2 separate regions of the Homo sapiens genome follow, and region 1 is linked to region 2. Evidence: fine-mapped expression QTL. A gene starts in region 2. The other region holds a variant in brackets. All regions are shown on one strand. Distances are between the middles of the regions.

Evidence for each region. PIP is the estimated chance that this variant, and not a neighbour inherited with it, causes the effect.
Region 1: its variant is fine-mapped to the expression of TET3 in whole blood (INTERVAL, PIP above 0.99).

Annotation. Positions count from the first base shown.
Region 1 is chr2:73,826,249-73,831,616 of GRCh38, forward strand. STAMBP (STAM binding protein) reads left to right here and starts at 2,713. Exons shown (of 10, transcript NM_213622.4): 1 at 2,713-3,262; 2 at 4,597-4,811. The coding sequence starts at 4,609. It overlaps LOC105374807 (a long non-coding RNA gene), which reads right to left and starts at 4,150. Exons shown (of 3, transcript XR_940246.3): 1 at 4,068-4,150; 2 at 2,509-2,656. RefSeq lists a silencer at 2,484-2,702 and an enhancer at 4,210-5,368. The variant A/G (reference allele first, on the strand shown) is at 3,189.
Region 2 is chr2:73,981,942-73,987,308 of GRCh38, forward strand. TET3 (tet methylcytosine dioxygenase 3) reads left to right here and starts at 2,969. Exons shown (of 12, transcript NM_001287491.2): 1 at 2,969-3,216; 2 at 4,039-4,765. The coding sequence starts at 4,463. RefSeq lists enhancers at 1,345-2,268, 4,162-4,391 and silencers at 2,442-3,131, 2,890-3,088, 3,512-3,681.

The DNA of each region.
Region 1 (5,368 bases), 160 kb before region 2:
TTCTTTTTGCTTTTTAGCAATAGGAGTCTCACTATGTTGCCCAGGCTGGAATGCAGTGGCTATTCACAGGTGAGATCATAGCACACCACAGCCTTAAACTCCTGGGCTCAAGTGATCCTCCTGGGTTTTTTGTTTGTTTTGTTTTGTTTTGTTTTTTTAGAGGTCTCACTCTGTTGCCCAGGCTGGAGAGCAGTGGTGTAATCATAGCTCACTATATCCTCGAACTCCTGGGCTCAAGCGATCCTCCTGTCTCAGCCTTCCAAAGTGCTGGGATTACAGGCGTGAGCCAGCGCACCTGGTCCAGGCCTGTGTTTTCTAAACCCCGATGTTACATTTCAGATTAAGAACTTCACCTTCTAGGCATCTTTTGCTGCTGCCCAAAAATGAGCAAGTAGGAATGAGCATGCAGGAGTGCAGGAGACCTGACGTTGGCATATGCAAGCGGCCAGATGGAGGCTGCTATATTCAGGAAAAGTGTTCATGGCTGGGAGTGAGCACCGGAAGGAAAGAGCATCTCAATTCCTAACCTGGTCTAGTCTGCCAGGTGAACTGCTGAAGCCTATTTGCTGAAGGAATACCTTCCACGCTTAGCCTCCAATCTTTAGGGCAGGGGTAGGTAGGATATTCTCATCAGTTATGCCAAGAATCTTTTATAGCTTTGATTTCCTGATTGTGTATACAAAATTGTTTAGTTTTTAAACTTTTCCAGTTAAACAAGAAATGAGGAATGTAAAATTTTTACCTTGGCCAAGATTTTCTTATTTCAGGTCCCTAGAAAGCTGAGTATTGAACTTTGCCCCAGATATCAAAAACTCTGGTCAACATTTACAAATTCTCTCCCTAAAAAGACTAGATCCTGCTTCCTATATTCACTTAGCTATTACCTTAAGAACTGCTAGCAACTGGGCATATTAACTTTCTAATATCAGGAACAGCCTCTATGTGGCGCTAGCTATGTTTACGACTATGCACACCCCTTATATGTGTGTCTCAGTTATAGCTTCTTAAAGTCTTCTCATCATAATCTTAAAATCTAGGATGTTTGTAAATTTTCTTTACTTGTTAAGCTAAACATTATAAAAAAAAGAACTACTTTAGAGATTGTGCTGAATGGGAGCAGATGCCCCTCCCTACCCCACCAGCTGTACTTCTACCTGTGCTTCCACCATTAGAGTATCCACCTGCTGGGTTTGTTTGCTGATGTATCCCTAACACCTAGAACAGAACCTGGCACATAGTAGACACTCAGTAAACATTTACTGAGTGAGAGGTTGAATGGATCAGATTTTGACCTGTGTTGCCTCCTGCCAGGACCCCATCTGCACTATAATGCCCACCCAATGACCAGCATCTCCAGTGCATCAATTTCTTTAGGCCCAACCCATCATGTTTACATTCTGAAGAGAGTCAGTAGAGAGAGTTTTGAAGACACAGTAGAGTGCCCTATACAATTATCTTCCCAGATTTATCTGCAGTAGATCCATGAGAGTTGATAGTAGACCCATGCACATTAATGCTTGCTGGGGGCAGAAGGGGAGGTGATATGATGCAAGCAAGTACTTTCAACCCTAAGTCTGAAAAGTTGATGACTACACAAAATCACTTCAGGTAACTCCAACAGAAATATACACAACGGAGGTTGGGAGAAATGAGAGATCTGGAGGCTGGCTAGGTGGAGGAGGCAACACCTGAATTAGGGATTTAAGCTAGACCTTGAAGAATAGGTCATGCCATCACACTAACAAACTCACAGGGAGGCTCCCAAATTTTGGGAAAGTGTCCCCCAGAGACTTAGACTTTTAAACCAAAGCCTAATGTTTCACAAAGTCTTCTGAGACAGAATGATTAGCAAGCTTGTAGGACCTTTTTGTAAAGAGGATGTATATGGATTCGTACAGACACACATCTACATGCAGAACGTGCCATTCTGTATTTGATGCATAAAACCACCTTGTCCCGGTCTCAGGGCAGGAACAGTGTCATACAGATTTTTGTGTCTCCACTGCTTTTGCATAGCGGCTCTTAGAGATTAAACGCTTTTTTTCCAAATATTTTATAGGTTTTTTGACATTAAAACGTTAGTCTCATCTGGGTGCGGTGGCACACGCCAGTAATCCCAGTACTTTGGGAGGCAGAGGCAAGAAGATCGCTTGAGCCCTGAAGTTGGAGACCACAGTGAGCTATGATCACACCACTGCACTCCTGTGACAGCCTGGGTGACACCGCAAGACCCTGTCTTAAAAAAAAAAAAAGTTAGACTTATGTTCTTTTCTAAGCAATAAAATTAGTCTTAGATATTGCCTAATATCTAAGACTACCAATTTTTGTGTAGAATGTAATACAAGCTAAAAAATACATTCGAAAGACTTTCTGTCCCCCAATTTATAAATCCTGGTTAGTTTAGCTAAGTCTGCAGTTGTGCTGGGATCAGCAATCCCTCCTTAAATGCAGGAGTATTGTGAGTGTGATGAGGGACTACCCCAAATCAAAATAATTTTAAAAGCAAACCTTAGCTTGCTAATTGGTTCCACTTTCTTCCTTGTTCCTTTTCCTTTACCAAGATGGCCGCTGTGTCGTTCGCTCCTCATTGGTCGGATTTTCCGCAGGTGCCGATTCTAGCCCCACCTACTAGCTCTCCGTTCCAAGTCCTAAATCACTGGGAATGTAATAGACAGACGAACGGGAGTGGGCGGAGCGGGCGCCGGATGTGACGTTTCCGGAACCTCCGGGTGTCATCCGCGGGGAAAGGTGGGGAAGGGTCCCGGGAACGTGGTGGGGCAGGGCCTCCGAGCGTGGTTGGACTTTGAAGGGGATCGGCCGCCGTGAGTGTGGGGCCTGCAGCCTACTCTCCCCGAGTCCCCTGCCCGGCCTGCCTCGCTCGAGGCACCCGACGGCTTCTGTCTCCGCGGGCTGGCGCCTGACCAGCCAGGCCCAGCGGTTCCCCGCCTACTGCATTTGAAAGATCCCGAAAACCCTGGATGATTGTGCCTGGGGTTGGCAAGTTCGTCTTGAGTGCCTTCAAGAAGGGTTCCTCAAGCAGTTGTCGATAGAGCCCTCCCTACTGTATACGCCCCCTCCGCTCATTCCTGCTACTTCCTTTCTCCTCCTCGTATTTCCCCCTCGGTCCTTTACGCCGCCTTTCCCCCTCATTTGCAGATGCTGCATCCCCTTTTTGGAATTGCTCAACC[A/G]GGTGGTAACCGGCGCCGCTTCCTGGCCTTGGGAGGTGGTTCCTTTCTTAACCCACAAGAACCTCTCCCAAGAGGTACTGAGATGCAACAAGCATCCTCTGTTTCAGTTAACTTTCATGGGCCGTGGACTAGGTTTACTAATTACTTGGGGAGGTTTTAGATATGCTTGCGGCTTTCTGAGTCCCTAAGGAGGCCTCGTGAGAGATGGACTATCTCTGCATCCCTAGTAGTCCTCACGGCTTTTGTGCTATTAGTGAGGGTGTTTTAGAGGGGAAGGTTTGTGGAGGAATTGTGACCCGAATATTGAAGAGACCTAAAGATGGAATTGGCTGAGAGAAGACTACCCCTGAGGGAAGAGTTGTAGTAGAAAAGAAAAACTGGATAGATAAATGAAACTGAAATGTGAGGATGCCTGGGCGGATTGGAATCCTGACTGAAGCAAAAGATCTCTGTTGGGGAGGGCCAGTTGCCACAGGGCCTTGAATTCCAAGATTTATTCTACTGTAGTTTGTGTATTCTAGAGCATACTGATTAGGGTTTGCTGTAATGCAATGTGTGTCAAATGCCCAGTTTTATTTTGGAGATGATAGTGGTGATATCTGGTTGGAATTTGGAATCTGATTCTAACAGCAACTATATCTAGAAAGACTAGAATTACTGGAGTTTTGGGACACCAGGGGTTTTTGCAATGCAAGTTACCATCGTGCCTTTTTGTTATTCAGTGTTTAGTCTATGAAGATGAGTAAATGGTTGTTTTCAAGATTTAAGTCTCTTGCCATGATAATGATGAATGAATGATTTTATAGATTGACTATAGTGGTTTAGTGAGCAGAGTTACAATTATGAGCATTAATTCCCAGACCAGTTCCCCTAACTCACCTTGTGCTCAAATATGAAAAAGGATACCACAGAAAATGTCAGTTACTCTCAGATTAAGTAAAAATGGTCAACCTTGAAGTTAGTTAACAATCCTCAAGAAAGTTCACTGAGTGCACTCTGCCAGGTACTGGGGTGGAGGTATGTGGGTATCTGGAAGGAGAAATAATAGAAAATAAAAGATGCTGTTCCCACTTTTACAGTGCTGTGGGCGGAGCCCCCTAATGGCAAAGGATTTGATTAACTTGAACTGAACCTTTGGTTGGTCCACTGTGGTTCTACTCCTTATACCACCTAATTATGGTACAGGGGTTGTATGTTTTCTAGTCTGCCAGTACTCTCATCGTTGTGATTTGGGCTTCCTTGAGGGTCTCAGCCTTCTTGTAGGAAAGTCCTTATTTAATAGGAGCCACAGCATTTGGTATGTTTCTCTTATATTTTCTTCTTAAGGTAGAGGTCTGTGAGATAAACTGTAAAACTGCTGGGATGATGAGGGCAACGGTATTGATGCCATCTGTTTTTTCTGTCTCAGAACTTGGTCCTGATGTCTGACCATGGAGATGTGAGCCTCCCGCCCGAAGACCGGGTGAGGGCTCTCTCCCAGCTGGGTAGTGCGGTAGAGGTGAATGAAGACATTCCACCCCGTCGGTACTTCCGCTCTGGAGTTGAGATTATCCGAATGGCATCCATTTACTCTGAGGAAGGCAACATTGAACATGCCTTCATCCTCTATAACAAGTATATCACGTAAGACACCTACAGTTTCCTTTTTCCTTTCTGGTGACTGGTGCCTCGCCTATTTGGCTCAGAATTGCTAAAACCACAGAACTTCACAATATCATCAACATTAATCATTTTTGCTGGCAACTCCTACATATTGGCTGTCCTTGCCGTTCAAAGACATGAGTGCTGAAGGTGTTATTTTCATGACTCAGTAATTTATGAGTAAGAGATTTAGTTCTTTGGCCTATGCCCACATAGCCCAGCTGTTAGACAAAAGAGTTGGTGGTTAAACTAGACATATTATGTTCTGATGAATGCTTTTACTGTTCTCTTTCTACTAAAGCAGCCAATCATAGGATTATTGTTGGGGTCTAGCAGAGCCAAAATTCCTCACTTGTACTTATTTTGTAGCAAATTTAGTGATACAGGAAAAAATTTTTTCCTCTTAACCTTTATCATAATCATGCAAATCATCAAATAATTAGTAACTGCCTACAGTTTGTGTGGCTCATCATAATAAGACCTTTCCCTTAAGTTATTTATCATCTTAGGGTAGGCAGCATAAGTAGAAGATTTCAGTA
Region 2 (5,367 bases):
CCAGTTTGTGCAAGTCGTAAAGAAAGCAGGAAAGAAGCCTATGGGTCTTCAGTGTTACTGGGGTCTGTCATTCATTAGGGTCTACTCACCTCGTCTCTTCATTCAACACAGTGGTTGGTTGCTAGGTCTAGGGTTATGAGGTGAAAGACAGCGTGCTACCCTTCCAGGAGTTTGTAGTAACTGGGAAAGAAACATGCAAACCATTCCAGTGCCCAGCGCCGATGAGATAACTGTTCCTAGGCAGGGAGAGTCAAACTTCTGTGGAGGGAGAGTGGGTGGGGCTCTGGAATCATCTGAGCAGCTGGAGGTTTCATGGAACTGGCACTTATGACTTGCAGGATGAGTGGGAATTTGGCAGGTACAAGGGGTAGCTGAGAAGGGGTGGGGTGGGAAGGGTTTTTCCCCAGGCAGAAGGAATGAGCAACAGGACTGCCGAAGTGTAAGGTTCCAGAGGCCGGGAAGATATGACAGGCAGCTCTCTAGCCTGGCTGGGTTCCCTCCAACCTCTCTGGCGGCGCCTTCTCAGCTCCTGTCCCTCATGGGCTGGTATTCCCTGGGGCTCTGTCCTGGCAGCCTTTCCCTCTCACACTCCATATCCACCCTGGATGAGCTCCTCCACAACTGAGGCCTCGCTGTCTGCTCACTGATGGGGCCCAAATCTCAAACCCAGGCCTCACCCCCTCAGTTGCACACTCACTTTCACACGAATGTCTCCATCCCCAGGCATCCTTCCTTCTGCATTTTGTCACAGTGAATGGCACCAGCATTCACCCAGTTACCTAAACGAGAGGGCTTTATGAAATGACCCTCTCATAGATTGCTGGCAAAGAGTAAATGACACAGTAACTTGCTGGTGCCATTTACCCAGACAGAATACAAGAGGATGGCTGCTGGGCTCCTCTGAAAGTCCACAACTTACTAGCTGAGTGATCCTGGGCAAGTTATTTAATCTGTTTTCTTATCCATAAAATGGGTTTGATGATAGTACCTACCTCACAAGGTTGTCATATGGATTAAACAATATTAGTTGTTGTCATTCATTGAGCCCTATATTAAGTCTTTTACTTGGATTCCCTTGAAGATGGAGTACCTAGTCCAAGGTCACACTGTTACCAAGTGGCAGATTCAGGTTTGGAAGCCAGAGTTCTCTGGCTCCTGAGCCATCTTCTTCACCTCACTGTCACACTTTCTGAAAACTGTATACCAAACAGGGAAATGCCTATGGTACAATGTTAAGTTAAAAGAGGATGGCAAATTGTATAATCAGTGTGAGTAAATCCACAAATAGGAAAGGCTACAAGGAAATATAGCAAATGGTTAAATATGGTTGTAATTTGGTGATTTTTCCCCTCTAGTATCTGTAGTCTCCACGTCTTCTTTATACACATTTTTTATTAATAAAGTTGCTTATTAAAAATATATTACATTAAAAACAATTACGAGTCTGCAACCTGTTCCCCTGTTTGAAAATTGCACTCTCTTGGTTTTTCGTCTCGGTTCTAGTCTTACTACCCTGAACAGAAACTCTTCAGTCCTCCCAAAGGCCATGGTAGGAAGTGGATATTGCAGCCATGTTCACCCCCACCCACTCCCTCGCTGACAACCTGGACCCTGGAGCAGGCTGTCAAAATCAGAGGGAAGTTCCAGATAGAACCCGGGCTGCTTTACCGCCTAGGGCTTTCTGGACAGCGCTACTTCAGATCAGTTACTTTTTTTTCTTTCTTTCTAAATAGCCGGCCGAATGCTCTTTTTCCAGTTCTGGCTAAGCTGTTAGCTGCAGCCGGGCGGCGACGCCTGCCAGGTACCTGGCTCCGTGAGCACCGCCCAAACTGGTCAGGCCAGTCCGTCCTGTGGCTGTTTCTGCCAGGACTCGCCCGAGTGTGTGTGTGCGCGTGTATGTCAGAGACCCACCCTGCTCCCCTGCAACCGAGGTAGGTGGAAGGCAGTTGCAGGCACCAGCCTGGCAGTCAGGCCAGATGGGTGGGGCTGAATTAATCTAACCTGGAATTTCAACTTGGCCTGCACAACAGGTGAGGGAAAAAAGCAGCAGAGAGAACGGGCAGTTTGGCAACTTGGAAATATTCCTGAGCCCTGCCCCTTACCCCCTGCCTGGAACGTAGCCCAGGGTGACTCTTCAAAGTGTCTGCGCCGGGTTTTAGGGCTTAGTCGCCCCACGGCCCCCTCGAGGCTGTCCGAGGCCCTCCTGAACGCTGTCCTCCTCAGTTACCCTCCGCGACGCGCCCGTTCCCCCTCCTCTGGGAGGCAGGGCGGGGGTATCGGATTAGTCTTTGTTTTCGACGCGAAAGAATCGAGCGCGGCGCGGGGGAGGCTGGTGATGGCAGGGCCGTGGGGTCCACCTGGACAGGGCATTCGGCCGTGACCCCTGCGAGGGTGCCCTTAGCCTCTGCCCCCGAGCAACCCCTTCTTGCCGGCCAGGCTGACTCGGTACGCAAACGCGCGATGTCCCCCATTGTCCTGCCTCGGAATGAGCCAGCGGCAGCTGGGACAGGGGGGTCAGTCGGGCCCGGCGCTCAGGCCTCCCGGGGGCGCCGGGGCTGTCCCGGACAGATCTGGCCCGCAGGGAGTGGCAGGAAGTGGGGACACCGAGCGAGGCTCGGCCGAGGGCCTAGGCTGGAAGGTCCGCGTGCCCCACCCCGCCTCGCCGGCCCCGGCTGCAGCCCCGCCGGAGGGCGAGGGTGGCCAACCCGAAGGGGGCGGCCGCCTCCCGGGAGGGCCGACCGCGTGGGTGGGAGCCACTGCAGGTGCAGAGAAGCGGCGGCCGGGCCGGAGCCTGCCCCAAGCCGCTCGCAGGCCGCCCACCCGACCCCTCCCCTCCGCGGGAACCACCCCCCTCTCGCCCGGCCCGGGGCCCGGCCGGGCCGGCGGGGCTCGGCGGGGCCGCACGTGTGCGCCCTCCCGGGCGGGGGAGTCCCCGGGCGAGCACGTGCCGCGGTGCGCGGGGGGCGGGGAGTCCCGCGGACGCCTTCATTGCTGCTGCTGCTGCCGCCGCGGCCGCCGCTGCCTCTTCCTTCCTCCTGCGCCGTCCCCTCCTCGGCCCGGGCGGGGGGCTCCGCGCGCTGAGCTCGGTCGGGCCGGGCGCTCCGGGAGGCGGGAGCCCCAGGCGGCGGCGGCGGCGGCCGCGACGGTGGTGGCGGCGGCGGCGCGGGCCGGGAAACTTTGCCCCTTTGTGCGCTCCGCCCCGGAGGCGGCGGGCAGGTCGGTGCAGTCGGTGCCTTTCCGGCTCCGGAGTGGGGGAGGGGCGGCGGGAGGCGCGGGGGGCCCGGCCCGGGGGAGGGGGAGGGGACGGCCCGGATCCGGCGGGGGGCCGCTCCTCCGGTGCGGGGGGCCGGACTGGGGTGCTGCGGGGCGCTGTGCGGCTGAGCCGGGCGGGGGTGGCGGGGCGGGGGCGGGGGCTGCGAAGCCGCCGGAGCGGAGTGGCGGAGGCCCCAGAACAAAGGAGCCCGAGCGGCGGCGCGCGCGCGGCCCGGCCCGCGGCTCGAGCGCGCCCCCCTCCCCGCGCCCCTCGGCGGCGCGGGCCGCCCTCCCCAGTCGGGCTGGCGGGCTGCGCTCCGGCGGCGGGCGCGGCGGGCGCGGGCTGCCCAGGGCGCGCCCCCACCTCCAGGCGGCTTCCGTGCCGGGGGCGCCGGGGCAGTCCCGCCGAGCGAGGCTCTCAGCAAACTTTATTTTGAAAGCTCAGCTCCCTAGGGAGGGCCCGGCGGCCTCCAGCCAGGGCGTGTGGGGGAATTTTGGTGAAACTCTCACCAGCCCGTGGGGGTGGGGAAGAGGGCAACTTTCTTAGAAATCTCACCTTGATCACCCCCTTGAATCCAGGGCCCCCAGCAGCCCTCAGGCCCGAGGCCGCCTCCCTCAGACAGGGAGCGGGTGCTGGGTGCGTCCTGCCTGAGGTTCTGGGCAGGACCTCAATTGAGCAAGCCCCATCTCTTCCCCCATTTTCTCTTCCCAGAAACAGGAAGAAGTGACACGTGAAAGTTGTCCCTGAGCCCCGAGTGATGCGCTTCCCCTTTCTGTCTTTTTCAGGCAGCACTGCCTTCTCCAGCGTCCAGACCCTGGAGGAAAAATACCAGGAGAAACTGCTCACTCAGCTCTGCCCCCACCACACCCCTACCTGCTCAACTCATGCCTGGGTCCAGGGTGGGTGAGGGTGAAGAACCCACCGGGCCAAGATGATCCCTTTTCTGAGGGCTGCTGCTGGTGTCCTCCCCCAGATCCTGGGCCCCAGCAGGTGGGAGAGTGGCCCCCTACGGAGTCCGATCAGACTGCTGCAGAGGAGGTGAAGAGGGGTTGAGAAGAGGCATCCATCCACGAGACTGAAGCCACTTGCCTTCACCCTTGTAGACTCTTGACTGTTCTAGGCGAGAAGGACCTGTTGGTGGCCTTTGGAGGTGGCAGGAAACGACTGTGGTTCTGCCCCAGCACCTATGACCCCACCTCTGGCAGCATCATGAGCCAGTTTCAGGTGCCCCTGGCCGTCCAGCCGGACCTGCCAGGCCTTTATGACTTCCCTCAGCGCCAGGTGATGGTAGGGAGCTTCCCGGGGTCTGGGCTCTCCATGGCTGGGAGTGAGTCCCAACTCCGAGGGGGTGGAGATGGTCGAAAGAAACGGAAACGGTGTGGTACTTGTGAGCCCTGCCGGCGGCTGGAAAACTGTGGCGCTTGCACTAGCTGTACCAACCGCCGCACGCACCAGATCTGCAAACTGCGAAAATGTGAGGTGCTGAAGAAAAAAGTAGGGCTTCTCAAGGAGGTAAGCCGGCCCTTGCTGGGCTACCCTGTTCCTTCCTCGAGGGCACGGTGATCACGGGGGTCTTGTTCAAGCAAGGCTCGTCCAGTTGAGTCCATTCTCTCATTTCTGATCCTCTTGGTCCAACTTTAAGTAGGAGTGTAACTGACATGTTTGGACTCCTTTGCAGGGCTGACAATTTGTATGAGTAACTGGGTAGAAGGGGGATCTGAGCTAGCACCCTCATCTCTGATGTTTGCATTTGAGGCGGGACTGTGATGTCTACCTTTACCTCTAGAAGTTTCTTGTCCTGCTGCTTGAAGCCTCAGATGTTGTATTTCAAGCTCATGCTAATGCTTGGATGACTTGGTCAGTGAGGGTGTAAGATAAGAGATGGAGGCTGATGGATTTGGAGACAAAGTTTTGGATTGACAGGGTGGTTTTATGATGCCCTGATGGAGTGGGATGTTTCTTTCATCGTTTTTCTCAGATGGCCAGAGAGCCAGTTGAAACTGTTGGGGAATCTAGTGACGAACTGATGTTTTGGGTTCCCCTATCTTAGTTCTTCTTGCGGTCAAAAACTTTATTTCTGTGTTCTCGGGACCTGGCACAATTCCTTGGCAGGT